Linked DNA regions of Homo sapiens. The protein of the gene in region 1 interacts with the protein of each later gene in a biochemical or structural test. Each region holds a gene or a part of one and is shown in the gene's direction. Other genes may lie near its edges.

Region 1 (7,022 bases):
CAGAATATATTTCTAGGTTATAAGAATGGAGGCATACATAAAAATGTGTTTTTATGTATGTATGAAAATATAAAAGATACTAATTAAAAGTTTATTTCTATAAATGATACTGGAGTTGAGTGTTAGTTTTATTAGTGGGCATTTGTTTTAAAGAAAATTGTGATAACTGTTCTATTTTTAAACAAATAATATTGCCTCATTTAAACATCATAATTTCCTATATGTTCTTCTCCCATTTCATCTTCCCTCTATAGATTAGTATGGAAGGACTGGGAGAGTAAAGTATTGATGCCAGTGTATTATTTTTAAATCATTTTCGAAAAACTAATAATTAATTTGATAGTTGATAGTCTCCTCTTCGTGACATTTTATGAACTTAGTGTCTTGGCTGGGAGCGGTGGCTTACACCTGTAATCCCAGCACTGTGGGAGGCTGAGGCGGGTGGATCGCTTGAGCCTAGGAGTTCGAGACCAGCCTCAGAAACATGGCAAAACCTTGTCTCTACAAAAAATACAAATATTAGCCGGGTGTGGTGGCGCATATCTGTAGTCCTAGCTACTCGGTTGTTGCTGAGGTGGGAGGATTGCTTGAGCCCGGGAAGCAGAGGCTGCTGTGAGCTGAGATCACGCCACTGCACCCCAGTCTGGGTAATAGAGCAGGAAGATCCTGTCTCAAAAAACAAAGAACTTTGTGTCTTGAAATTGCTATATTTCCTTATAATGTGGACCTATCTATCTGTCTATATAATAATATAGATATATTTTTGAGACAGCTTCTCGCTCTGTTGTGCAGGCTGGAGTGCAGTAGTAGTGTGATCACAGTTCACTGTAGCCTCCACCTCCTGGGCTCAAGTGATCCTCCCACTTCAGCCTTCCAAGTAGCTGGGACTTTAGGCATGTGCCAACACATCTGGCTAATTAAAAAAAAATTTTTTTTTATAGAGACAGGATCTTCCAGGCTGGTCTTGAACTCCTGGGCTTAAGTAATCCTCCCACCTTGCCCTCCCAAGGTGCTGAGATTACAGGCATGAGCCACTGCGCCCAACCCCTTATCATATTTTTAGAAAATTATTATAAAATGTGATTCTGCCACATGCTTGGCTTATTTCTACTTTCATATTAAAACACTGTTATTTTATTTCTCTCCCTAATCTTTTCTCCAATCAGGCTTCAATGTTAGCTGCAGAAAATGACCCTTATGGACCTTTGCCACCAGGCTGGGGTAAGCTGTTTTTGCTAATGATCTATAAGGGAGATATATATCTCTCCATATATATATATATATATATATATATATATATATGTTCCTTATTTTATATATATATATCTCCCTTATATATGTCCCTTAACATATATATATCCCTTATAATATATAATATATTTAATATGGATTATATATTCTATATATTATATATTCTGTAGAATGTTATATATTCTGTATACTATATAGAATATATAATCCATATTAAATATATTATATATTATAAGGGATATATATGTATATTATATATGTATATATTATAAGGGATATATATATGTATATTATAAGGGATATATATATGTATTATATATATAATATACAGAATATATAGAATAGATTATATATTAAAGAATTATATATTATAGAATATATATTATATTCTACATAATTATCTATAATATAATATATATTATATTCTCTATAATATAATATATGTTATATTCTCTATAATATATATTATATTCTATATAATATATTCTATAATATATAAGGGATACATATATCCCTGATATGTTTTTATATATATAATATATATTATATATAATTATATGTGTTCCTTATTTTATATATAGATCCTAAATAGTTATTAAATATTATACTCACTTTATATTTCAGAAAAAAGAGTGGATTCAACAGACAGGGTTTACTTTGTGAATCATAACACAAAAACAACCCAGTGGGAAGATCCAAGAACTCAAGGGTATGTATATACAGCAGCCTTAAGTCGTCTTGCATATATCAGTAGGTAGAACCAACCAACCTTGAATGAGATATTTTTAGTACCTAGAAAAGGTTCATCTTGTGATTTTAACTTTATCTTTTAGCTTACAGAATGAAGAACCCCTGCCAGAAGGCTGGGAAATTAGATATACTCGTGAAGGTGTAAGGTACTTTGTTGATCATAACACAAGAACAACAACATTCAAAGATCCTCGCAATGGGAAGTCATCTGTGTGAGTGAAAACCTGAAGTTCTCCTTTAAATATTGCTTAGTGAGCACATGAGATTTAGTCTCTAATTTATCCTCAAGTTTAGCAAAACATTTTACTTTTTGGTTCAAGAAAACCTACACAAGTGAAACCTTAGTATAGCTGTCTTTGCTCTCATTTGACAATGGATTTGCAGCATGTAAACTATTTATGTAGTGATTACTGTGTGCCGAGGATTGTTCTAAGTACTTCATAGGTATTAACTCATTTTATCTTCCAATAACCCCTTGAGGTAGATACTATTATTTTTCCCTTTACCAAGTGAGGAGAGGTATAGGGAGCATAACTAACTGTGCAAAGTTATAAGGCAAGTAATGGAGCTGGTTTCTAACGATGACAGTCAGTCTCTGTCTAGACTCTGTGCTCTTAACTGCCACATCACACTGCTGCAATGAGATGGTCAGTGAAATGATTTTTCCAGATTTAAAGATACCTTAATTAAGCGGTTGACAGATCTCTCCTTCATTCTTACTCTAAGGTGTCATGTCTTTGCATAACTAAGAAAATAGAAGCAATCCTAAAAGGTCTTTTGCAAAGTTGTACCACCATATCTGTCCGTCTCCTACCATCTCTCCTCCCTCCTGTTCCTATAGATGAACTGTCATTGTTATTATCAAAGTCTCGTCCCTCTGCTGGTACATTCGATTCCTACCCCCACTTTTCTACTTAATTGCTCCAACAGTTATCACCTTTGTGTTGCATTATCAGGTTTTATTTCTCTACAAAATTATTCTTATCAGCTGTTATTTCTCCTAGATATAAAAAAAAAGCAAAAAAAAAAAGAAATTACAACTCTTCCCTTTACCAATGTGTTCAATCGCAGTTCATTTTTTTGTTTTTTTTTTGAGACGGACTTTCGCTCCTGTTGCCCAGGCTGGAGTGCAATGATGCGATGTCAGCTCACTGCAACCTCCACCTCCTGGGTTCAAGCGATTCTCCTGCCTCAGCCCCCTGAGTAGCTGGGATTACAGGCACCCGCCACCACACCCAGCTAATTTTTGTATTTTCAGTAGAGATGGGGTTTCGCCATGTTGGCCAGGCTGGTCTCGGACTCCTGACCTCAGGCGATCCACCTGCTTTGGCCTCCCAAAGTGCTGGGATTACAGGCGTGAGCCATCACACCCAGCCCACAGTTCATTTTTATTGCTCCCCTTTACAGGAAAGCTACTTGCATGGTTGTCTCTGTATTGCTGTTCATAGTTTCTCCTTTAAACCAACTCCAAGGAAGTTCCCCTGACACTGAATTTGCAAGGGCACCAATGATCTTCACATTGTTAATCCAGGCGTTGGTTTGCAGTCCTGCCTGATTTGACTTACCAGGAACATTTGACACAATACATTTCTCTCTCCTGGCAAAAGTAGTGCTGTGAGCCATACTTTCTTGATTTCCCTCTGCGTTTCTGTTCTTCTATCTTTATTTTGTCGAGTCCTCCTTTTTTTCCTAAGCCTCTTTTTTTTTTTTTTTTTTTGTTAACTACATTCATTCTCTTGATGCATCTTACTCAGTATTATGCTTTTAAAACATGTGCCTGCTAATGACTCACAAATTTAGCTCAGACTTCTCACTTGAAATTTTGCTTTCTATATTCAGCTGCTTATTGACATCTCCACTTGTAACTCCTTCTTGGTAGGTCCTGTAAAACCTGCTCTCTGGCCAGGCATGGTGGCACACACCTATAATCCCAGCACTCTGGGAGGTTGAGGCGGGTAGATCACTTGAGCCCAGGAGTTTGAGACCAGCCTGGGCAACATAGCAAGAGCTAGTCTCTAAAAAAAAAAAAATTATAACAACAACAACAAAAACCCAGCTCTACCTGTGATATTCCCTGTCACAGTTGATAACTCCACTCTAGCAGGTGCTTGGGTCAAAAATTTTGAAATCACCTTGTTATGGTGGCTCACGCCTATAATCCCAGCAGTTTGGGAGGCCGAGGCGGGCAGATCACCTGAGGTCAGGAGTTCGAGACCAGCCTGGCCAACATGGTAAAATTAGCTGGGCGTGATGGCGTGTGCCTGTAATCCCAGCTACTCAGGAGGCTGAGGCAGGAGAATCGCTTGAACCCAGGAGGCAGAGGTTGCAGTGAGCCGAGATTGCACCATTGCACTCCAGCCTAGGCAACAAGAGCGAAACTCCATCTTAGGAAAAAAAAAAAATGTAGAATCATCCACAACTCCTCTATCTCTCCTACCTTACAAACAGTCCATCAAGAATTCTAGTTACCTCAACTTCAAAACATATCTAGAATCCAGCTATGCCTCACCACCCCCATTGCCACCATTTTGGTCCAAGCTACCATTATCTGTTGCCTGGCTTGGTAGCAGAGTCCTCTCTCTGCTTTCTTCCCACACCTTGTACAATGTTGTTACTCTCCATACAGCACAGAGACTGAATTTCCAAAACAAAATTTAATTAAAAGTCATTTATTTGCACAAAACCCTTCAGTGGTTTCCATCTCAATAAGAGTAAAAAGCACACTTTACAACAGCCTAAATGGCCTTACAGGATCTGACCCCTCTTATCTCTTCAACCTCCTCTTGGTTTTCGCTCCTCCTCATTCACCGTGTTCTAGCTTCATTGGACGCTAGCTGTGCCTTCAACACCTTCAGCTTCCACCTTGGGTCTTAGCCTTTATTCCGTCTGCCTGGTATGCTCTTTTCCCGAAACTCCATATGGCTTTTGCCCTCTCCTTCATGTTTTTGCTCAAATGTCACTTTGTCTGTGAGCTCTACTCCTTTTACCCTTTTGAAAATCACAAAATGCTTCTCATATCACTCCTTATACTTTGTCCTTTTAACAATGCCTTTTTTATTGTTTTATTGTTCTAGGTCAGGAGTGATAAGACATTTGTACTTTACTTATTTATTATATTTTTTTGTCTTATCTCCTTCACTAGTATATAAGCTCCACAAAACAGGCATTTTTACCTATTAATAAGTAATGCTGTCACTGTCTAGAAGAAAGCCAGGTACCAGCTATGCATTCAGTAAATGCTTTTTGAGTAAGTGAATTCACTTGAACCTGACAACACAAGAGAACATTTTTCATCTGTTCCAAAGTGTTCCTTAACATTATGAAAGTTCTTTGTGCCTGTCAGGCCCTCAATCAATAGGCAAGAGATCCAGGCTCTGTCACTGTGAGTCAAACCATATTGTAAAACCTGTATTCCTAGGTGCCGTGCCACCAACTCTGCCTTTTCTCTCACTGACCACGTGAACCGTGTGATCTGGATGACAATGTTGTTTCTAGGAATTTGATTTTGCTTTGCTTATTATCTCCAGGAATATTTGTTTGGGTTTTAGGTTAGGCTTAGGATGTGGTAGAATTTCCTTCCACGTCTCTTCTGTCTGGAGCCTCTGTCCTCCTTAGATTTAAGGATTATCGAAGATTTTCTTTGAAATAGTCTGTAGTAGACTTTGATATTTCATTTAACTCACTAACAAAAGATCCAGCCATAAATACAATGTCCTTCTTTGTGTATATGTGTGTCCTGTTGCTGTAATAGTCCCCATTACTTGAGCTTCTTTTGGCCCACCATGTATGTATACCCTTCTCTCCCAGCAGAAATCTTCCTGTGGTATTTTGTTGGACTTTAGTACACTCTGATTTTATACTGAATACTAAATATTCAACTTTATTATGAGTTAATTTGGTTTATTTTTGTTTTTCTTTAGAACTAAAGGTGGTCCACAAATTGCTTATGAACGCGGCTTTAGGTGGAAGCTTGCTCACTTCCGTTATTTGTGCCAGGTACTATAGTGGTAAATAAATCTTATACTCAATAATTTAGTCTTCTCTTTATACAATACATATACTATAACTCAGATGATATTATGATATTATTTTTGTTTTTAGTCTAATGCACTACCTAGTCATGTAAAGATCAATGTGTCCCGGCAGACATTGTTTGAAGATTCCTTCCAACAGGTAAGGAGGATTTTAGCAGAATAAAACACCATTTGTCTCATTGTATTCTGTGCATCTAAAGAAAGTCAGGGTTTTAGAGATTTTTAAACCACCCAGAACACAGCTATAATAATAATGACTGCCACCACCACTTGTTGAGTGCCTTTGTTTTGTTTTGTTTTGTTCTGTTTTCTTAAATAGAGATGGAATTTCGCCATGTTGCCCAGGTTGGTCTCAACCTCTGGGCTCGAACGATCTACCCACCTCGGCCTCGTAAAATGCTGGGATTACAGGCTTGAGCCACTGCATCTGGCCTGAGTGCCCATTTTAATCATAGTTACACTAAACCTTCCCATATACTGAGTGATTATCATTTGCAAAACACCGGCATCTTACATTTCTCATTTTATTTCATTCGTCCTCACAGCATCCCTTTGAGATAGCACTTATTGTATCTCCATGTTATAGGTAAAGGTACTGAGACTGAGAGACATATCATGAATTTAGATGTGTATTTACTAAAATAAAGCTTAAACAGCTTTTGGAACAAGTTGATTCTTGTTTTGACACAATACTTGGCTAAGAATTTATTACCTCAAAGTTTTGATAATGCTATCAAATTAAAATTAAATTGGTAGATACTGTATTCCATTTGAGAATTCCTTTAATAACTTTATTTTCACCTTTATGTTTCTGTTTAAATGTGATCTCAGAGAGACCTTCTCTGAGCCTACTATTTTAAGATGGCAGTCCTTCTCTTCTCCCTCACAGTCACATTCCAGCCATTTATGGTGCTTTATTCTTTTTCATAACCACCCAACATAGTGTATTTTGTCTTCCTTACTAGAATGTGAGCTCCATGAGAGCAG
Region 2 (7,869 bases), on another chromosome or scaffold:
TCCCCACTTCTCAGGGCTGGGAGACCATACCCAGGCCTATCTACTGTCTTTCCCACTGAGGTCTGTGCTCTGAGCAGTCTAGGGGCTTCCAGGGACAGGCAGGTGGGTCTGAGCCCTGAGCCACGTGGAAAGGACGGGCAGGTGGCCTCCACCTGAGATCTGCACTGCACCAGCCACCCCCCAGGCCCAGCTCTAGAATGACAATGCCAGGTCTGCCCCATGGCCAGTCCTGCAGCTCTCGAGGCCTACACCAGCTGGGGCCTTCTCAGCTCACCTGCTCAGGAGGCCCAGTGCCTGCCCGGGGACTTGCCCGGGCAACTCACTCCCCCAGCCTCTGTGCAGAGGGGAACAGCAGGGCCTGCCTCTCGGATGCTGACCCTATCCCATGCCTCATGGGCAGCAAGGGGGGCAGTTTCTGCATGGGGACCACTGGAGACACTGAGTAGACAGGGCCCCGGGCAGAGTCCTGGCCACAGCTGGGGATCACTGTCCTGGCAACTGGGTCCAGGGAGGGTACCAGGCGCCTGGCGGGAGGGCTGGCCACAGCAGCAGGCTTGCATGGACAGCCAGTTGACTTTGCACCAAGAAAAGCCCCTGCCGGGTCTGCGCCCACATTCCTTCAGCTTCTTGCAGTCACAGGTCAGTCAGCAAACCTTCCGGAGCCTCTGGTGTGGGTCGGAATGGTAGGGATGGGCTCTGCCTCACACACAGAGAGTGGGCCAGGAAGGCTTCATGGTCAGGGGTGCTCAGACGGCCGAGAGCCTCTGGGATGGCTGAGGAGTCTCAGGGACACGTGGGAAAGAGACCCCCTCGGCAAAGGACGAGGCCTGCAACAGCAGAGCAGGGAAGTCCCCGGCACAGACCGAGGGGTGCAGGGCATGGGGAGCCCCTGTGGGGGCCAGGGTGAGATGCCCAGCACCTGCAGGCACCCCTGGGCCTGGGTGACGGTGGCTGTCTGCACACAGCAGGGGACCAGGAAGCAGATTCCAGACCCCAGCCTCCTCAGAACAAGGGCCGTTCTCTGTTCTCAGAACAAGGGCCGGCCCGAATCCATCCTAGAGCAAGGACTGCCAGGTGCGTCACAGCGGACCGCCCAGCACAGGGGACCAGGTAGCAAGCGAGACACTGAAACCACATCTGGAAAAATGCCCAACCTCGAGGAAATGTCCCAAGTTCTTTATAAGTGGAGAAAGGCAGATGGGGCTTTAAAAATCACTTGGTGCAGCAGAACCTGAGGCCCGGCGGCCAGCGAAGGCCCCACGGTGTGCCCGATGGTCAGGGGCTGCAGTGGATGGGGACGTGGAGGCTGCGTAGGAGGCACCCTGGAGGCTGGACACCCTGGAGGCCTCTGGGCTTGAGCTTTGCACACAGGTCAGATGTTTTTTACAGTCAGCTTCAAACGGTGAAGGGGCCCTACTCCTAGGTGGTCTGGAATGTTCCCACAGCTGCCTGGTGGTGGCCCCCACCCAGGACCCAGCAGGGTACCCGCCACAGGACGTCCCCGCACTCGGCCCCGCCTCAGAGCCCCCACGCCCCCTGCTTTCAGTCCCAGGGGCCACTCCAACCTGGCCACGCCAAGCCATGGTCCCTGCACCGAGTCCAGCCTGCTGCCTTGGGCGGTGAACAGACTGTGAGTGTGGGGGAGGGGAGGAGTGTCCCCCAACACCTCCTGGGGGTCCCACTTACCCTACTGGATGACAGCAGCTGAGGACCAAGGCCTGGCTGGGCCTTGAGCTGGCATCCTCATGATGTCTCTGAGCCTCAGCTTCCCTCCTGAAAAATGGGGAGCATCATGCTAGCCGCCCCCCAGCGCCACAGGGTCATGGGGGCTGCAAGAGCCAAGATGAACTCCTGCAGGAAGGAAAGGGGCCTTGGGCTCAGCACCGGGAGTCTCAGCCCTGGCTGCTCCTTAGAATCTACTGCAGAGCTTTCAACACAGGCACCCCTCAAATACACCCACCCACCAGGTCACTGCTGACCCCCCTCTACTCGGACCACATCTCTCTGGGGCCGGAGCCGGCCCTGGGGTGTTTTAAGGTCACCTGGGTCTCCATGAGCTCCGTCGCTGTCCCCGTGTGCTCACCAGCTGTGCTTACCTCTCCACGCACTTAGGGGTGTGCTCTGCTCTCGAAAGTCCCCACAGCAGCCGCAAAGGAGGGGCCTGGTTGGGCCAATGTCAGCAGGGCCTCCTTAGCTCACCCTGACAATGGTACCCCCATTTCTCTGGCAGCAAACAAGGGGGAACTGACCCAGTTCAGTCTCCTGGGGTGCAACGCCTAAGCCACTCTCCCCTCAGCACCCGCAGGGGGCCTCTGAAGAAGAGAGGGCTGCAGGACACGTCTGCCTCTCCCCTCCGCAAACCAGGCTCTGCGGCCCCATCTCATCTGCTTCCAGGCTCCCTGGCCAGCTTGGGAACAGCCCCATTCATTCGGGGTACCCCTGGAACCTTGCCCCAGCTCCCACCACAAGTTGGGACAGGAAGCCCAAAGTGACTCCTACAGGGGAGGCCTGGCGGCACTGCACCCCAATTCAGCTTCTTGGGGTCCTAGCCCCCACCCTCCCATTGGGTTTCTGGAGTGGCTGGGGTGCCCTGCACACAACCTGCTCTTGTTTCTCTTTAGTCCCCGCAATGCCCGCTGCCCAGGGCTGCCTCCCGACCTGTAGGAGAAGGTCTCCAGGCCCTAGGCCAGCAGATGTACTCCTGTTGTGTCAGGACCCCAGCCTCCCCCGACTGCCCACACCCGCTGGCCTGACAAAGAGGAATGGGGAGCCCGGACAACTTGTGAATGAAAAAGCTTCTCACCTACTTGCCAGGGGCCTACCCCCTTCCCAGGCTGGTGGGGAGGTGAGGCCCATCCCCCTCATCCCTGGCTTCTCCTCGGCCACAGCTGTCCATGGGGTACTCCCGGCTGTGGGTGGTGCAGGGGTTGGGAGCTGGGAGGCCGAGGCCTGTGCTTCCCTCGGGCCTGTGCACCCGGCCGCACCATCCGTAACGCGGGCTTATGAGCGTGCCTGGCTGCTGGGTGGCCTGACGGGTGGACACCGAATGGGCCACTCTCTTCTCTGCTGGTAGAGGATGGAGGCCCAAGGTGGAGGTGCTGTCGGCACAGCTGGGGCAGACCAGGGGAGACCCCCTATCCAGGGATCCCCTCCTCCCCTCCCAGGCCGCCCCTCCGCAAAATGCTGAGGACTGGCCCCCGGGCCTGGGCTACATGGGCCATTACTTCTGGCCTGGGGCCCACAGGCAGAGATGCCAATGGAGGCACACAGGCAGTCGCACCCGCACCCGATCAGCACCAGGCCTGAGGCCTTCGGGCCTCCCTATGCCCCACCCCACCCCCACCCACCAGGAGCAGAGGACGTCGTGGTGGGCAGAGTCCTCAGCCTGGGAGCTGCACAGCCCCGCGCTTCCTTCTATGGAAAATCTGCTCCTCCAGGCTGCCTGGCTGCTGTTACATAAACATCTCTGCTGCCTCCAGGCGCCTCCTCTCCTGGGGCGCTGACCCCAAGATGTTACCCCAGGCCTGCAGAAGTGAGGCCAGATTCTGGGAGGACGCAGGCGAGGGAGGCTCCCAGCAGCAGCTACAGGGGCGGGACAGGCCGCCTGCACTGGCTGTTTCCAGAGTGCTCAGCATTTGGCAAGAGGTGTGCCAGGAAAGGCTTGCTGGGGTCAGGTGTGAGATTTGTCCTGCTTTCTGTGCCTGCCTCTGCCACCATGCTCTGGGGTTTCTGCAGCCCTCCCCCCAGGCCCCCACAGTCCTAGGTCCCTCCCAGCCTTTCGGTCTCCCCGCAGGGCAGGCTTAGCCCTCCTACTCCAGGAGGGGCGCCGGGACACGCGCCTTCTGCCATCGCACTCACCACCCTGTGTTGGGGTGGGGAGGGGGCGCTGTCTGTCCCTGGCACGAGGCCGTGAACTTTGCGCAGGGACTATGGCAGGCATTTTGGACTCCTGGCGCTTAACCAGGCTTGGCACAGGGTGCCCGTGCCTGGCATCGTGGTGGAGAAATAAATCAGCCGGAAGGAGCACGTGGGAAGGGCTGCGCCGGCGCCAGCGGCAGATCCGCCCGACCCGTTTGTGCTTTCTGGGGCCACCTTAGGCAGGCGGCGCCCGGGCAGGAGGAGGACGGTGACCGAGGAGCGTGTCGACGCGGGTCCCCCTTGGGGGAGCGGGGCACAATCCGTCCGCGAGGCACTGGTCCCGGCTGCTCCCTCGGGGCGCCCGGAGTCCCCTGCCCAGAGGCCGCGGCGCCCCCATCCCTCGCGGTCAAGTGCTCGGGCAATCACGGCCAGGGATGTCTGGCGGCGATCGATCCTCTGGACGCCTAAAGCCGCGGCCACGGGGCCCTCGGGAGGGAGTGAAGCCGCTGGGCTAGGGGCGCACACACGGCTAGGCCACTCTCCCAGAGCCCTGCCCCGGGCCCGGGGTCCCCCAACGTGGCCTCAGCTGCTCCCCGCCCGGCCCAGCGCACGGTGCACACGGCTGTCCGCGGCCTCGCCCTCCCCATTCCGCCCCGGGCTCCTCCGCTTATTCACATGCAAATTTCAGTCGCCAGTTGTCGCCGAGCGCGGCAACCGCCAGAGCCGGATCCTTCCGCAGCCCCGGCTCAAACTTTTGGCCTCTGAAAACTTTCAAACGAGAAGTAGTCCCAGGCGCCCGCTCCCGACCCACGCCGCGCCGCCGGGTCCCTCCTCCCCGGAGAGGCTGGGCTCGGGACGCGCGGCTCAGCTCGGGGAGGCGCAAAGGCGGACGGGGCGTGCGGGAGGAGGTGGCCGCGGAGGGGGCGGGGGGACCGGCGGGGGTGGGGCCGGGCGGGGCGGGGCCGGCGGGGGCGGAGCGCACCTCGACTCTGAGCCTCACTAGTGCCTCGGCCGCGGGAGGGAGCGCAAGGGCGCGGGGCGCGGGGCGCGGGCGCGGGCGCGAGCGCAGCGAAGGAACGAGCCGGGCGCGGAGCCGGGCCCGGGGGCCTGCGAGAGCACAGCGCCGCCAGCCAGCCGGGGAAGAGAGGGCGGGACCGTCCGCCGCCGCCCCGGGACCGTACGCCGCGCGTGTGCGTCCCAGCCCCGCCGGCCAGCGCAGGAGGCCGCCGCCCGGGCGCAGAGGGCAGCCGGTGGGGAGGCATGCCGCCGCTCCTGGCGCCCCTGCTCTGCCTGGCGCTGCTGCCCGCGCTCGCCGCACGAGGTAGGCGCCCACCCACCCGCGAGCCCCCACTTTCCGCGCCCTTTGGAAACTTTGGCGGCGCCCGGCGCGCGCGCCCCACGGCTGGGAGCGGGCGGCGGGGAGGCCAGCATGGAGAGGGAAAAGCGGGCGGCCCGGGGCGTGGGGTTCTGGAGTCCCGGGATCAGGGAGGACCGACCTTCCCCCTCGATCCCCCCGTGGAGGCGGACTCGCGCCGCCCGTGCCTGGAGCCGAGTTAGGAGGCCGGTGTGGGGTGCTGGGGCCCCGGAGGCCCTACTCCGGGCCCGCCCTTCACCCGCCGCGCGTGGGGCTTGCCGCCGGTCGGCCGGGCGGGCGGGCTGCCTACTATTTTTCGATTTGAATAGAGTCGGTTTTGGTTTCCTGTTGCTTCTCCGGGCCATTTATCTTCTTTCTTCTTCGCCTCTGGCCCACGCCGGGGCGGATGTTGGGGCGCGGAGTGTGGGCTCTGCGGCGCCGCGTTCGCCTTCACTGACCCGCGCGGCCGGGCTGGGTCCCCGGGCTCCCGGTCGCCCCGCCCGCCGGTGCCCCCCAGCCCGGCTCTCAGTTTGGGGGAGGGGTTGCGTAAGAAGCCGCCGCGCCCGGGGGGACTGAACTTTCCTTTTGCTTTGCGGAGTTGAAGTTTGGAAAGCTTGGGGGCGGAGAGCGGGACGCGGGTGGGGGGCTCTTACATTTCTCCCCGCCGCACAGCGAGCGGGGTCTCTGGGGAATCGAGTGATTAATCCACTCTTTCTCCGAGAGTTGGAGGCGAGAATTATCTGTCCTCTTCCAGAAAGTGCGGCTCTGTGTCACACCCCCCTCCCCCGTTTCTCAGCCCCGGTAAGATGGGGAGGGAGGGGCTTGAGTAATTGATCCCTTCTCGAGATGGGGTCGAATTCCTTCCGAATGGGGGACCTTCATCCCCCTCCTGTGGGTGTATGGGGGCTGCCCTGGAGATGCGCGCCCGCGGAGGCAGGTATTGGGTGTCGGCGGAGGCGGGGCCGCGTCCCCAGGGTGCTGTCCCGGTGCCCCTGGAGGCGGCCCCGACTCCACAATGGGCCGCTCTGATTCTGAGGCGGAGGCCGGCGCTTTGTTGGCGGGCGGGGTAGCGGGCGAGCAGCTGTCGCATTTTCCCACGGGCGGGAGCTGAGTGTGGCCACCCCCCCTCCCCCCGTCCAGCTCTGCCCCCTTGCAGAACGGGTTTGAACAGAGGCAATCTCGGCGGCTGGATGGGGGGCCCTGCCCTGCCAGACTCCTCAGTGAGCCTCCAGGGTGGGGGGCAACGCTTTGGAGAGTAGCCCACTTTGTCTCTGCTTTTCCCCCACTGCGTCCAGGCGGCACATCAGGCCACCCCACCCTGCTTCAAGCAGGACGTGTTCCCTGCTGCTCCCCTTCCCCCCATTTCTGACTACAGAACTCTGGGCAGAATGTTGACGCCCCTTTGGTTTCATGGAGGGGCTTCCTGCGGACCCGTGCCCCAGCAACCCATGATACTGAGCAGAGTGCGTCCGGGGTAGGGGGCGGACGATGCCCCTTGGCTGGGTGCAGGTCCCCGCCCCCAGGGTAACCAGGGCCTTCGGTGGTGGTGGTGCGGGTGAGACTGACCTCTCTTCTCCTGCCCCTGCCTAGGCCCGCGATGCTCCCAGCCCGGTGAGACCTGCCTGAATGGCGGGAAGTGTGAAGCGGCCAATGGCACGGAGGCCTGCGTGTGAGTACCACCCCTGCGGGACCTGTTGCTTTGTCGAGGGCAGAGCCCCTGCCTTCTGCAGCCGCGCAGGGGACAGAACACTAGGCCATTGTCTTCTGGAGATGGCCCAGAGTCTGGGCACGGTCACGTGCTGACTTTTATTGGACAAAGTCTGGCAATTACTTAATCACCAGCAATTATGCTGCGTGTGGAGCTGGTCTGGCTGCTGAGGGCTTGGGCACTCCTCCGTGGGCCACCTCAGGCTCCGGGGTCACTAAGTGGGAGTCCCAGTACCCCAATTCTTCTTTAAGTCCCCAAGAAACAGTTGATCTGCCAGGGGAAGCTCTGGACCATTTACTGAGAGGCCCAGCCCCCACCACCCTGCCAACTTGGGGCGCCTCCTCTGGGCGGGTGATGCCTCCTGGGCACAGGTGATGCCTCCTCTCGGGGGTGATGCCTCCTAGGTGGGTGGTGATGCCTCTTGGGCTGGTAGTGATGCCTCCTCTGGCACAGGTGATGCCACCTCCTGGGCGGGTGATGCCTCCTCTGGGTGCGTGATGCCTCCTGGGCTGGCGGCAATGCCTCCTCTGGGCACAGGTGATGCCACCTCCTGGGCGGGTGATGCCTCCTCTGGGTGCGTGATGCCTCCTCTGGGCACGGGTGATGCCACCTCCTGGGTGGGTGATGCCTCCTCTGGGTGGTGATACCTCCTCTAGGTGGGTGATGCCTCCTCTGGGTGGTGATACCTCCTCTAGGCGGGTGATGCCTCCTCTAGGCACAGGTGATACTTCCTGGGCAGGTGATGCCACCTCCGGGTGGGTGATGCCTCTTCAAAGGAAATTGACTCTTCAAAATCGGACCCGCCTTTGGGCTCTCTGTTTGCCCCAGCTCCCTCTTCCCGGCCTCAGGCTGGGGCTGGGGAAGAGAAGGTGGAACTCATGTTTTGGCGTGGGGTGTGGGGTAATTATTGAGTCTGGTTTCTGTCCTGGCATCTGCAAACTCTGACCTC
Region 3 (7,022 bases), on another chromosome or scaffold:
ATGAACGTCTTCCTCCCTGACATCACTCACCTGAGAACTGGCCTCTACAAATCCCAGAGACCGTGCGTAACACACATCAAGACAGAACCTGTTGCCATTTTCAGCCACCAGAGTGAAACGACTGCCCCTCCTCCGGCCCCGACCCAGGCCCTCCCTGAGTTCACCAGTATATTCAGCTCACACCAGACCGCAGCTCCAGAGGTGAACAATATTTTCATCAAACAAGAACTTCCTACACCAGATCTTCATCTTTCTGTCCCTACCCAGCAGGGCCACCTGTACCAGCTACTGAATACACCGGATCTAGATATGCCCAGTTCTACAAATCAGACAGCAGCAATGGACACTCTTAATGTTTCTATGTCAGCTGCCATGGCAGGCCTTAACACACACACCTCTGCTGTTCCGCAGACTGCAGTGAAACAATTCCAGGGCATGCCCCCTTGCACATACACAATGCCAAGTCAGTTTCTTCCACAACAGGCCACTTACTTTCCCCCGTCACCACCAAGCTCAGAGCCTGGAAGTCCAGATAGACAAGCAGAGATGCTCCAGAATTTAACCCCACCTCCATCCTATGCTGCTACAATTGCTTCTAAACTGGCAATTCACAATCCAAATTTACCCACCACCCTGCCAGTTAACTCACAAAACATCCAACCTGTCAGATACAATAGAAGGAGTAACCCCGATTTGGAGAAACGACGCATCCACTACTGCGATTACCCTGGTATGTGCTCTTACCTGGTTGAAGCATCAATAGATGTAGTGTGTGTGTGTGTGTGTCTGTGTGCGCGCGCGTGTGCGTGTGTGCACGCGCGTGCCCTTTTCAACCTCATGGCTTTAAATAGGAAAGTTGTACTTGACAGTAAAAAAAAAAAAAATTACCTTTTTTTTTTTCTCTATCCTATCTCTGTGCTTTAACTTTGGTATGTAAACCAGTTAGTTGTCTGTTGCTTATGTTATGCATCAAAAACTTGGCTAGAATATTCTGGAAAAAGTTCCCTTGGATTTTTTTTTCTTTAATATTAAAACAGATTTGAATTTCTAATACATATTATTTCGAGTTAGGCCAGAGTTACTTTAAAATGGCAATTGAATAAATTGCAGTTTTTAATTCTAAATTAAGTGCCCCAGAAAGAGATTAAAGTAGGGTGGGGGAAAATAAGGTTTGGTGGTGAAGTGGAGGTTGCAGGCAGCTAGCTTGATGTTAGGTACAAGACTGTCTACAAGACAGATTTAAGAATGGTTTTGATGGCACGTGAGCATATGCTCAGTTTTGAATGACATACATGGCCCAAAGTATAAGTTGAAGACAATACATGGAATATATTTACAAGTTACTGGGAAAGCTAGTTTATGATTAATACATGGCAAAATTTATTGACTCTGATACATGATATGGCATGACGTGCTAAATGAAAAAAGAAGAAATGTGGGAGTACAGAAAATTACAGTCATCTTGGATAATGGCTTAGTACTGTCAGCTCTAGAGCCATTAAAATTTTTAAAAAAACATATAGCAGCTCTTAATACGGAAGTACAGCACCTACTGGAATATAAACACAAATTTTCCATTTGTAGTTTGGCTTGATTATCTGTATTCTTTCCTGTTAAAGTGATACATAAAACAAATCACTTCATGCCTTTAATAAGGTAATGGGGGAGGGCTCTTTAAAACTTTTAAAACTGAAGCTTCAAATAATCTCATCTAGCATGAGAGATTTCTTCTTTAAAGCCAGATTTTAAACACTGAATCATCAAATGTAAAGATTTCAAAAGGATCTCCAAAATGACATGCTGTTCTCCTTTATTTTAGGTTGCACAAAAGTTTATACCAAGTCTTCTCATTTAAAAGCTCACCTGAGGACTCACACTGGTATGTAATTTTCTTGTTAATTCTGTGAGTTGTGTAAATAGTGTAAGTGGTATTCATCCTTTTAAAAGCTAACACGTGTTTGATCTCTTCTCCTGTCAACTTTGTTTTTTTTTTTTTTTTTAAATAGCCTACCTTTTCAGCACAGGCTTGGTTCAGAATTCAGTTCCATGAGAAATCTGGTTCCAGGAAGGCCGGTGATGTTCCCTCACTAAGGCCTTCTTGCCCTGTCACCGCTCAGAGTTGATTACCCAAAAATGTAAACAGCGATGTTTACTAATGGATTTTAAAACTTATACTGGCAGTGTTTTGAAGGAAAAAAAACAAAACAAAACTCATTTTCTTCCATAGCAAATAATTTTGCTCTGAGAAAGCCATTTTAAACTCTTAAAAACTTTCCCATTTGGAGTGTACTGCATAATTGGTGAAAACGTTAGTTTCACCTCTAGGTTAAAATATCTGTGTTTAGTATGTTTTCTGTGCTTGATGAAAGGTAGTGCTGAAATTGCAGTGTTAAAATCAGGTGGTCAGAAATGGGTTACAAGCCCCAGCCTAAACTTGGTATGTGTGAGAGACTTGATCTTTATTCTAGCTTACATTCATTCTTGTTTACATATGCTTTTAAGTTTAGCTCCTCTACTTTTGTATTTGCTTTGTTCAATCTATAGCAGTCACTTTTTTTGAGATGGAGTCTTGCTCTGTTGCCAGGCTGTAGTGCAGTGGTGTGATCTCAGTTCACTGCAACCTCTGCCTCCCAGGTTCAAGCGATTCTCCTGCTTCAGCCTCCCGAGTAGCTGGGATTACAGGCCCCCACCACCATGCCCAGTTGATTTTTGTATCTCTAGTAGAGATGGGGTTTCACCATGTTGGCCAGGCTGGTCTCCAACTCCTGACATCTTTATCCACCTGCCTCGGCCTCCCAAAGTGCTGGGATTACAGGCGTGAGCCACCGCGCCCGACCAGCACTTTTAAGAGCTTTTAAACTTTAAAATTATATCAGAAGCCATTTTAAGATGAAACCAGGTGGCATACTTTAAAGGCCCCCCAAATACTCCAAATATTGTCAAATATATAGATGGTTACTATTTGCGATTTTCTTAAAAGAGCAGCCCTAAAGAAAAGAACTTATATAAAGTGATTGTGTTTTTTTCCCTCAATAAATACAGCCTTACCTAAAGTTCAGAGAATAAGTTTGCTAATAAAAGCAATGACCTAGCAAAATGTATTATTCCATCATTGCTATGGAAACCAAAGTATTCAACAGTTCCTTTGAATGGGTTGTTGGATTAGTGTGAGGACTTGAATCTCCCGAGGCTAGATGTTACTATGGAAATTGAGTTTTGATAAATGAAGTAGTTATCTCTAACTGCTGCATTAAAAAGTAAAAGCCTTTGAACAAAGGTCAGTGCTGAGGTAGAGCCCTAAGAGGAATATGGTTGCAGACATTTTGTATGCATGTTAGGAAGCATTGCTTGATATCCCAGTGATAAACACTACTTACTAAAATCCGATGACAATGTTGTAGATTCCAGGGCTTTTTGAGAAACTGCTTTTAAGGAGAAGGCATCTTATGTATTTATCTATGAAATGAGCGGGCTGTTTTGGCCTGAGGTTTTTGCATGGAGACAAACTGATTACATAAGAGGAAGGATCCTTCATAGGCAGCCCAAGGTAGAAATTTTTATAGTTAAACACAAATGAATTAAGCATGTTATAAAAACTCCAACTTAAAGTTTTCAAAATACAAATGACAAGTGCCAGGAAAATATTCCATGTAGAAATACCAAAATGTCCTTTTACAGAATATAAATGGAAATATAAAGACATTTGAACTATTGTTTTTTTCACTTTTGGAAGTCCTTGAGAGATAGGAGGGAACACATTTTCCTGGGTTTAAAGTCTCCTAATAAAAGAGCACAATTGCATATAACGATGTAATCAACTACTTATTGCAGGGATGTAGTCAAACCCATATCTGAATAGCCTTTCACCCCGTCAGGGTTTAGTGCCCTGAATGCTTATACCTGCGATTCAGGAACTTGACCTGCCGGCAAATACATTTAATCGTGGGTTGTCTTAACAATGCTTGTACTAATAAAAACAGACTGAAAAGAAGACCGAGACCTGGTTTGGGTCCCTTGCATCAGCTTTTTCACCTGACCATAAACATTGTGGCCTTCAACATCTAATGAATGAGAACATGTAATCCAGTTTAATAAAGTTTTGTTTGATAGTCTTTCAAATGCCTTGGGGAGGGTTTGTAGCAGACTTGTTCATCTGGCTAAACCTGTTCTTGGGTAATCATAGAGCATTGAGGTTGTTTTCTCCTCATTTCTCATTTCTAGACAATGCCTTTTAAAATTACCTGTTCTCTCATTGCATCCTCCCCACCCTGCCCGCCTGTTGTTTTTAAATGAATGTATCTGAAGCCAGCAAAGGTGTTTTTTTTTTTTCTTTCCCTTTAAGGCCCAGGTAGAACAGTTAGGACAGTTTTTCTAAATTACTTCTCTTATGTAATAGCTTTTTTTGGTTTTCTTTCTGTCCTCCTCCTCCCTCTCGGACCGTTGATCAGAGGACTTTAAAAACCACACAACAGTTGATGACATAAAATACTCTTTAAATGATTGTCGTTTTACAGGCAGAATGTGAAGCACCCTAGCATTTCTTTGGAAAATAATTGTAATTGCTTTAAAATGTCAAGTTACCTTATGTTTTAAAAATAATTTAGGCAATGAAAACAGCCTACATCTGAGTTTAATTACTTCTTCTGGATTTTTAGATTGGAAGTGCTTCTTTAACTTGGGTTGCAAATTGAACCTAAGCAAATAATAGTCTTAACAAAATAGAACTTTTTAAGTAATCTGAGATGACAGAGTAGATGATATATCAGTTTCTTAAACCAGAAGTATAGCATTCAAGTCTTCTAAGTTCATATACTTTGATTTCTTTATCAGGAAATCGCATATAAATAATACAAAGTTCTGTCTTCTTTGTGTGATTAGACAATACTGGAAACATTTGCTTCTATTCTAGGGAATAATTATATTTTATTTATATCTGTACATACATAGTATAGCATAAGGCCTGTAGAAGCACCCCTTATAGATGTGGATGTTCGCATGTATTATTTGTAGTATGTGTGTGTATACATTTATCATGCCTTTGGTGAGAAATAATTATGGCTGCTTCTAGGTAACAATGTCAATGAGTGGTGTATTTCCAATTCAAAATATTTGTACTTTTAACAGCATTTAAATGAACATTGTACTGAAATTTGTATGCCTCATGATGTCTACAAGGGGCGGAACACATTGCTATTACTCTAAAGTTGCTCCCAAGTATACTGTTTTGTCTTTATAAATCAACATGACTGATAAACTGTCTATTGCAACCAGTATTATATGCTCACATACCTTACTTTTTTCTTTAATATAATGAACATTTAAAATAATGTCTAAGTTTGCAAAGGTTTGAGGCAAGTTGAAATCAGTAGGAAAATATATTGACTGTATCTTCAAACAAAAATTTGTAGAAATTTAAAAAGTTCTTACCAGAGAAAAAGTTCTGAAAAAGTAAACCATGAACTCAACACAGATGTTTGAAGTCCTAGCGGTTCCCTTCATGTGCGTGGATATACACTTAACCTTAGAGAATATGGAAAAGCTGTTGGGAAATCAGGGTACGGTAACGTTTCTAGATTTTTTCTTTCTTTTTTTTCCCCCGTTTCAGCTATCTGGAACAGGGCAAGAAATTAGCATTTGTACAAAGAAAGTCTTTGAACAACACACACTTGGCTCAAGTATTCCTCAGACCCAGACTCCATGCATTGGACTCTGTGTGTACTAAGTGATCCCAGAGTGGCTTACTGGAGATTGACAATGGAAAAGGACAATTTGAAACACGCCCGTAGGAGAAAATGGAAACATTGTACAAATAACATAGGAACACAAAATTCACTCTTCTTTTTTTTTTTTTTTTGAGATGAAGTCTCGCTTTCGTCCCCAGGCTGGAGTGCAATGGTGCGATCTCGGCTCACTGCAACCTCCACCTCCCAGGTTCAAGCGATTCTCCTGCCTCAGCCTCTCAAGTAGCTGGGATTACAGGCGCCTGCCACCACGCCCGGCTAATTTTTGTATTTTTAGTGGAGACGGGGTTTCACCATGTTGGCCAGGCTGGTCTCGAACTCCTGACCTCAGATGATCCACCCGCCCCAGCCTCCCAAAGTGCTGGGATTACAGGCGTGAGCCACCACGCCAGACTCACAAAATGGACTCTTAAAGCACTGTGTTCAAGATTCCCTGTTTAGGAAAGATTTCCACATTAAGTCCTGGAAAGATTTTTAGTGGAAGCCTAGTTTGTAAAGGGGTTACATTCCCATTTTCTGCCTTACTGTCTTTTGCAGAAGACTTTATTGCCTACTGACATGTGTAGTAAGATGTTATTAGTTATACTTCGTATAATCTGTACTTGAGATTTGCTGCTGAATATATTGACTTTCAGTTTGGGTACTAAAAGATCCTTAGATATGAATTTCTTTTCTAGGGCCTGGCACAGTGGCCCACACCTGTAATTCTGGCACTTGGGAGGCCGAAGCAGGTGGATCACCTGAGTTTAGGGGTTCGAGACCAGCCTGGCCAACAAGGCAAAACCCCATCTCCACTAAAAATACAAAAATTAGTCAGGCGTGGTGGCACATGCCTGTAGTCCCAGTTACTCAGGAGGCTGAGGCAAGAGACTCGTTTGAACCCACGAGGCGGAGGTTGCAGTGAGCTGAGATCGTGCCACTGCACTCCAGCCTGGGCAACAGAGTGAGACTCCATCTCAAAAAAAAAAAAAAAAAAAAAAATTCCTTTCTAGGTCTTTGCTCCAAAGTCATTTTTCATGGAATATATTAAACATAGCTTTTGGTTTTAAAATCTCGATAATATTTGGCTGGGCGCGGTGGCGGCTCACGCCTGTAATCCCAGCTCTTTGGGAGGCGGAGGCAGGTGGATCACCTGAGTTCAGGGGTTCGAGACCAGCCTGGCCAACATAGTGAAACCCTGTCTCTACTAAAAATACAAAAATTAGCTGGGCATGGTGGCACATGCCTATAGTCCCAGCTACTTGGGAGCCTGATGCAGGAGAATTGCTTGAACCTGGGAGG
Region 4 (7,348 bases), on another chromosome or scaffold:
AATGGTATTTATTTGGCTCACTGGGGCAAACAGATTCATCTTATTGGGAGTCAAGAGGCGACCAGGCGGGGGCGGTGGCTCATACCTGTAATCCTAACACTTTCGGGAGTGTTAGGTGGGCGGATGACTTGAGGTCAGGAATTTGAGACCAGCTTGGCCAACATGGTGAAACCCCATCTCTACTAAAAATACAAAGATTAGCTGGGCGTGGTGGCACGATTCTGTAGTCCCAGCTACTCTGGAGGCTGAGGCATGAGAATTGCTTGAACCCGGGAGGCGGAGGCTGCAGTGAGCAGAGATCATGTCAATGCACTCCACCCCAGGAGACGGGCAAGACCCTGTATCAAAAATAAATACATAAATAATAAATAAAATTATAAACAGAAAAAACAGGTGACCAGTTCAGGGGCTCAGCTGCCCCAGACCTTGCCTGCTGGTATCTGAGGCCAACCTGCACTCCTCCTTAGCGCACCGCTAAGATGTGCTCCAGTGTGGAGAATATGAGCATCATACTGCAGTGAAAAAGAGATCTGGAGACAGGCAGACAGGAGTATGAGGCCAGAGGAGAGGTCTGAGTACTGAGACCTGGGCCCAGGGGAGCCTCCTGCTGCTCACCTGGTTCAGCAATAAACCATTGTTGAAGTCTTCGGTTTGAGTTTTGAGTTCTGGTACGTTCCAGCCCCAAAGTCATGGGAGCCGCCCAGGAAGTGTGTTCACATGGTCATATGTTTTTGTAAAACTTAGAAATTCTGGACATTGTAGCCGGAGCTGGTCAAGCTTGTTATCTCTGCACTGCAACTTCCTCTTCTTGTCATTTCCCCTCCTGTCAGGAGGCCTCACTGTAGCCACAGTATTGTGAATGAATAATTGTGGGGTTGTTTTTTTTTTTTGAGTTAGAGCTTTCCTCTCGTTGCCCAGGCTGGAGTGCAGTGGCTTGATCTCAGCTCACTGCAACCTCCGTCTCCAGGGTTCAAGCGATTCTCCTGCCTCAGCCTCCCGAGTAGCTGGGATTACAGGTGACCGCTACCACACCCAGCTAATTTTTTGTATTTTTAGTAAAGACGGGGTTTCACCACGTTGGCCAGGCTGGTCTCAAATTCCTGACCTCAGGTGATCCACCTTCCTCAGCCTCCCAAAGTGCTGGGATTACAGGCATGAGCCACTGCGCCCGGCCTGTGTATTTTATTTCTTAAAAAGAGCCTCCAGATCACTTGAGTCCAGGAGTTCCAAGGAAGCAGTGAGCTATGATCGCACCTGGGTGACAGAATGAGACCCTGTCTCAAAAAACAAAAACATAAACAACCAAGACAGCCTCCAAAATTGTATAAGCTTCAAGGCCTGGCAAAACCTGAACTTGCTCCTGTCTCCAACGTATTTGGCAAAGGGGTGGGAGAGGGGTGGGCAGGTTGTCCCCATCTTCCCATTTATGGTCCTTAGAGCAGCCAATGCTGCCTGCTCTTTGCTGGGGGGATTTTCCTTTTTTTCTTTTTCTTTTCTTTGAGACAGAATCTTCCTTTGTTGCCCAGGCTGGAGTGCACTGGGACGATCTTGGCTCACTGAAACCTTCGCCTCTCAGGTTCAAACAATTCTCATGTCTCAGCCTCCCTATTAGCTGGGATTACAGGAACCACGCCACCATGCACAACTAATTTTTGTATTTTTGCGTTTTTTTTTTTTTTTTTGGGATGGAGTTTTGCTCTTGTTGCCCAAGCTGGAGTGCAATGGCGTGATCTCGGCTCACTGCAACCTCCACCTCCCAGGTTCAAGGGATTCTCCTGCCGCAGCCTCCCGAGTAGTTGGGATTACAGGCGCGCGGATTACAGGCGCTTACAGGCGCACAACACCACACCCGGCTAGTTTTTGGTATTTTTTAGTAGAAACGGGGTTTCTCCATGTTAGCCAGCTGGTCTTGAACTCCTGACCTCAGGTAATCCGCCGACCTTGGCCTCCCAAAGTGCTGGGATTACAGGTGTGAGCCACCGCGCCCGGCCTAATTTTTGTATTTTTATAGAGATGGGATTTTGCCATGTAGTCCAGGCTGGTCTCAAACTCCTGGCCTCAAGTGATCCACCCACCTTGGCCTCCCAAAGTGCTGGGATTACAGGCACGGCACCAGGCCTGGATTTTGCTTTTCTTTTTCTTTTTTCTGAGATGGAGTCTTGCTCTGTCGCCTAGGCTGGAATGCAGTGGCATGATCTTGGCTCACTGTAACATCTGCCTCCCAGGTTCAAGCGATTCTCCTGCCTCAGCCTCCCGAGTAGCTGGGATTACAGGTGCCCGCCACCATGCCCGGCTAATTTTTGTATTTTTAGTAGAGATGGAGTTTCACCATGTTGGCCAGGCTGGTCTTGAACTCCTGACCTCAGGTGATCCACCTGCCTTGGCCTCCCAAAGTGCTGGAATTTGGCTCACGCCTTTGGCGTGAGCCACAAACCCCGGCCTGCTTTTCTTTTTTAAATTTACATATTATTTATTTATTTTTATTTTATTTTATTTTGAGATGGAGTCTCACTCTGTCACCCAGGCTGGAGTGCAGTGGCGCAATCTCAGATCACTGCAAGCTCTGCCTCCCGGGTTCACGCCATTCTCCTGCCTCAGCCTCCCAAGTAGCTGGGACTACAGCCGCCCGCCACCACGTCCGGCTAATTTTTTTTTTTTTTTTGTATTTTTAATAAGGGGTTTCACTCTGTTAGCCAGGATGGTCTCGATCTCCTGACCTCGTGATCCGCCCGCCTCGGCCTCCCAGAGTGCTGGGATTACAGGCGTGAGCCACGCGCCCGGCCTAAATTTATATTTTAAACGCACATAGGAAAAAAAAATTAAACAGTACCAAAGAGTACAATGCATACTGACATACCGAGTCACCAATCCACCCCAAATTCCTAGACCCATGTCTCAAAAATGCCACAGACATTTTCTGATGGATCTTTGCAAAAATTTTCTATCTAGATCCTATTTTTTATACAAATACAACTATATGTATACAGCATTCTGTGCTTAATAACCCTTGATGATCTTCCCATATCAGCACATAGTCTGACTTAATTCTTTTTAAAGACTGCAGAGATTGCAGGCGCCAAAATACATCTAACCATTGGGGCAGATTTCATTATGACTATCCTTAACCCACTGTACTTGTCCCGCAAGGTCCAACCTGGTATTGCACAGGACCTCACAGAACGCTGCTGTTTCCTGATCTTTTCTAGTGAGGCAGCTTTGTTTCTTCACATAGGAGACCTCCCTGGAAAGCGAAGTCAAGCAGGTGGATCTAGAGGTTGGCCACCACAGTCAGGAAAGCAGCTGTCTACTGAAAAGCAAACTCTAATTCCTTAACATTAACGAGTACCGGAACTACCACGTGGGAAGTGCAGCCCCCTCTCTCCGCCTCACGGATTCAGCTCGGAGGTGCAGGGGTTTGGTGGGGGGCGGTTAGGGAATGACAGCTGCCCCGTGGAGGACGCCCAGGGCTGGGTCACGAGCTGACAGGAGTCAGCCTTATTCTGTAAATCCTAGTTATCAGGATGCCGGTTTCGCGCCGTGCCCAGTCCCACTCAGCCTTCAGTCTTCCGGCCGGGACCCCGCTGGGCGCTAAGGGGGGAGCGGCGCCACCGCGAGGCCGGAGAGGGGGCTGCGAGGGGCGCCCGGCCGGCCTGCGAACGTGGTGGGAGCCAGGCGGGGCACACGGCCTCCCCTTCCCATGAGGGACTCTCCCCGCCCCCCGGGCTCAGCGCTGGGAGTGGTGAGATGGATGGCGGGGTGATCCGACGCCGCCAGCCCACCGCGTCCCCAAGAGCCGGGGCCTCCGGCTCAGCTAAACGCCCCAGAGTCACGCATGCGCCCCATAAACGTCTGCTGAGTGAACGAAAGCTCCCCATCCACAAGGGGACAGCTCGGCGCTCCCACGCCATGTCCAGGTCGCATTCGACCAGCAGGACTTCCCTTAACGCGCTGCCGGAGTCCCCAAGATCGCGCCCCTGCCAGGAGCGGAACTGTTTATTTCCGTCCGGCTGAAGAGGCGGGGTGGGGATGGCACAAGCCGATTGGTTACGCAAAATGTGGAACCAATTCAGGCCTATGATCCAGGAGACTACAAGTTCCAGAATGCATCCTTCCTCCAGCATAGGGACAGGCCGAGGCTGCGGGGGCGTTGCCTGCTGGGAATTGTAGTCTTCATCTTGTTTGTTGCGCAGGAGGAACTGGAAGGAGGGAGTAAACTATTACCACGTGACGTTCGGGTCAGGTGTTTGGGCCAGCCTCCGCACTCGAGCTTTGATTGGCTGACTCTAATAAGAAGACGCCACTAGGGGCGGGGCGAAGAGGGGCGCAAGCTCATTGCGTTTTGAGTCTCGGGACCCCTGTTGGAGAGACTATGGCGCTCAACAAGAATCACTCGGAGGGCGGCGGAGTGATCGTCAATAACACCGAGAGGTGAAAACACTGCGGAAGGATCCTGGAGGACCAAAGTTCGGGTGTCGAGGAAGTGGGCGGTGGGTGGTGGGTGGTGGGGAATAAGCCCCTGAAGAGGGAGCACTGATGGAGTGAGGTTGGTGGGGAACGGCTGGGGGCGGGGTTGGAGGAAGGTGGGTGGGCCGTGGGGGAGAGCCCGGGAGGTTGTGATCAGCTGGGAGGCGGGGGTGGGACGTCTGCATGGGGACCTGGTATGGGGCCCCCGGTGGGGCCTAGGGGTGATTCTTGAACCCCTTCCCAGACTTGTGATTTCAGTAGCTGGGAGGAGCCCCAAACAAAAATAATTGTCACTTATTGGATGTCTACAACGTTACTACGTGTCAGGCTCTGCGCCTTTTCTACCTTATTTAATAAATTCTGTGCAGTATAATCTACTACTGTCCACATTTCACAGGTAGGGAAAGTGGAGGGCAGAAAGGTTAAGTAACTTGCCCGAGATCGCAACTGTGTAAGTAACAGAGGTGGTAATTCCAGGAAAGGAGTCTTGACTCCAAAGTTAATAGGATTAACCACCAGCATACAGGCTTCCAGTATGTTCCAGAACTGTTCAGGTTCCCGGTAAAAAACTGAGGTCCCAGAGGTGAAATTAAACAGATGACGTTTGTCAGGTGTCTAACAGTTCCTGGCACTGTGTGGGTCCGTAGTCATTCCCTTGCCTCTCTCTTGAATGCCTGTTGGTTTGGGTCACCTCGGAAGGCAGAGCTCTCCTAATTCAAGGTTCTTTCCACTCCATCCTCCCCACCCCTTGCTCATTGCATCCTGTCTCTCCTCCAGTCTCTGCCAAGAGAAGCCTTAAATGGCCTCTGTCTCCTTTTGTTCCTTGGGTATTGAAAATCAGACCAGCCAGCCCTGGGTTGAACTATGCCGACCCTGAATTGCCTCTTGAAGGCAGAAGGAGCTTAGGAGGCACCTGAGTCCCCAAAGGAGACATCGTGGAGTCAGAGCCCTGTACCCAGCTAAGGCCAGCATCCAGCTGCCCTGTGACTTGGGAATGTTTGATGAGTCAGAGGAAAATGCCTAGAGTGACCCAGCATGCTCACTTTCCCTCTATCTTACCCGCTCAGAGTTTCATGGGCCCAGCCTGTTGCTGGTAATTCCTTCTTTTCTCTGAGCAGTACTTCTCTTCTCTTTTTTTTTTTTTTTTTTTTTTTTTTTTAGATGGAGGCTTGCTCTGTCGCCCAGGCTGGAGTGCAGTGGCACGATCTCAGCTCACTGCAACCTCCGCCTCCTGGGTTCAAGCGATTATCCTGCCTCAGCCTCCCCAGTAGTTGGCATTACAGGCACCCGCCACTACACCCAGCTAATTTTTTGTATTTTTAGTAGACATAGGGTTTCACCATGTTGGGCAGGCTGGTCTCGAACTCCTGACCTCGTGATCCACCCTCCTCGGCCTCCCAAAGTATTGGGATTACAGGAGTGAGCCACCGCGCCCAGCCATTTTCCTTTGCTTATACCAGTTGTTTCCCACTTACCCTTCCCCAGTCAGAGAAAGTTGTGATATATGGGGGGAGGCAGAAGACAAACAGAACCGTGTGAACCTTTTTATCATGTAATCAGAGACACCTCACACTGTTTTGTTGCATCTCTGTGTGTGAGTCAGTTCCCAGGCCTGGCCAGCTTTTCGTGCCATTTGGCAACATCTCTGGGGACTGTTTTTCTTTCTGTCTCTGTGGAACTTTCTGAGACAAGAATGTATCTATCCTGCTCGGCCTTCTACCTGGCTTAGGGCTCAGTCCTGCTAAGTAAGGTGTGCCTTCAGCCTGCTGTTTTAGAAAGTGCTTCAGCCTGCTGTCTGAAAAAGTTGTATCTATAACAATTGAAGTGTTAAGTCCAGTGTCCAAAATTTGATAATTAGGCTGGGCATGGTGGCTCACGCCTGTAATCCCAGCACTTTGGGAGGCTGAGGTGGGTGGATCACTTGAGGTCAGGAGTTTGAAACCCGCCTGACCAACATGGTAAAACCTCGTCTCTACTAAACACAAAAAATTAGCCAGGCGTGGTGGCGCATGCCTGTAATCCCAGCTACTTGGAAGGCTGAGACAGGAGAATCGCTTGAACGCAGGAGGTGGAGGTTGCAGTGAGCTGAGATCACGCTATGTTGCACTGCAGCCTGGGCAACAAGAGTGAAACTCCGTCTCAAAAAAATAAAAAATTATAATTAAAATAGTGAACGTTACTCTTCAAGTCGTGAACTCCTTTGACAATGATGAAAGCTGTGGACTCTCCTCCCAGAAAAATGCACATATGACATACGTGATCATCTCAAGGGCTTCATGGACTTTCCTGCAAACCCCGCTTAAGAACCCAGGTTTAAAAGAACCCCGAAGGACGTCCTATTGTGATCTGTACAGTCATCTCTTAGACATGTTTATATTTTAGGCTTGAAAAACAAACCAGCAAAAACAGAACATCTATCACAAGGACTTAAAAGAAAATAGAAGAGTTGGCCGGGCGCAGTGGCTCACGCCTGTAATCCCTGCACTTTGGGAGGCCGAGGCAGGTGGATCACGAAGTCAGGAGATCGAGACCATCCTGGCTAACACGGTGAAACCCCGTCTCTACTAAAAATACAAAAAATTAGCCAGTCGTGGTGGCGGGCGCCTGTAGTCCCAGCTACTTGGGAGACTGAGGCAGGAGAATGGCATGAACCCAGGAGGCGGAGCTTGCAGTGAGCCGAGATCACGCCACTGCACGCCAGCCTGGGTGACAGAGTGAGACTCCGTCTCAAAAAAAAAAAAAAAAAATAAAGAAAATAGAAGAGTTAAGCCAGATTATCTAACTTGCTTGAGGGATGATGGCCTCTTCAGAGCCCTGTAGCTCTGCTACCATGTTGATCATTTGGGGGCTTTATAAGCGGGGTTTGGGAAATTTTACAGAACCC

The links.
Region 2: the proteins of WWP1 (region 1) and NOTCH1 form a complex in vitro, tested with the Homo sapiens proteins (one study listed by BioGRID).
Region 3: of the proteins of WWP1 (region 1) and KLF5, one has a biochemical effect on the other in vitro, tested with the Homo sapiens proteins (4 studies listed by BioGRID, with this or other methods).
Region 4: of the proteins of WWP1 (region 1) and WBP2, one has a biochemical effect on the other in vitro, tested with the Homo sapiens proteins (2 studies listed by BioGRID, with this or other methods).

Annotation. Positions count from the first base shown.
Region 1 is NC_000008.11:86,429,531-86,436,552, forward strand, and holds part of WWP1 (NEDD4-like E3 ubiquitin-protein ligase WWP1), read left to right. Parts: intron 1-1,166; coding exon 1,167-1,221; intron 1,222-1,875; coding exon 1,876-1,960; intron 1,961-2,084; coding exon 2,085-2,213; intron 2,214-5,921; coding exon 5,922-5,997; coding exon of another isoform or gene 5,998-6,006; exon of another isoform or gene 6,007-6,008; intron 6,009-6,102; coding exon 6,103-6,174; intron 6,175-7,022. UniProt on the Homo sapiens protein: E3 ubiquitin-protein ligase which accepts ubiquitin from an E2 ubiquitin-conjugating enzyme in the form of a thioester and then directly transfers the ubiquitin to targeted substrates.
Region 2 is NC_000009.12:136,543,036-136,550,904, reverse strand, and holds the start of NOTCH1 (neurogenic locus notch homolog protein 1 preproprotein), read left to right. Parts: upstream 1-4,856; 5' UTR 4,857-5,118; coding exon 5,119-5,179; intron 5,180-6,802; coding exon 6,803-6,881; intron 6,882-7,869. UniProt on the Homo sapiens protein: Functions as a receptor for membrane-bound ligands Jagged-1 (JAG1), Jagged-2 (JAG2) and Delta-1 (DLL1) to regulate cell-fate determination.
Region 3 is NC_000013.11:73,062,005-73,069,026, forward strand, and holds part of KLF5 (Krueppel-like factor 5), read left to right. Parts: coding exon 1-730; intron 731-1,819; coding exon 1,820-1,879; intron 1,880-7,022. UniProt on the Homo sapiens protein: Transcription factor that binds to GC box promoter elements. Activates the transcription of these genes.
Region 4 is NC_000017.11:75,852,319-75,859,666, reverse strand, and holds the start of WBP2 (WW domain-binding protein 2), read left to right. Parts: upstream 1-4,331; 5' UTR 4,332-4,369; coding exon 4,370-4,428; intron 4,429-4,522; exon of another isoform or gene 4,523-4,543; intron 4,544-7,348. UniProt on the Homo sapiens protein: Acts as a transcriptional coactivator of estrogen and progesterone receptors (ESR1 and PGR) upon hormone activation. In presence of estrogen, binds to ESR1-responsive promoters. Synergizes with YAP1 to enhance PGR activity.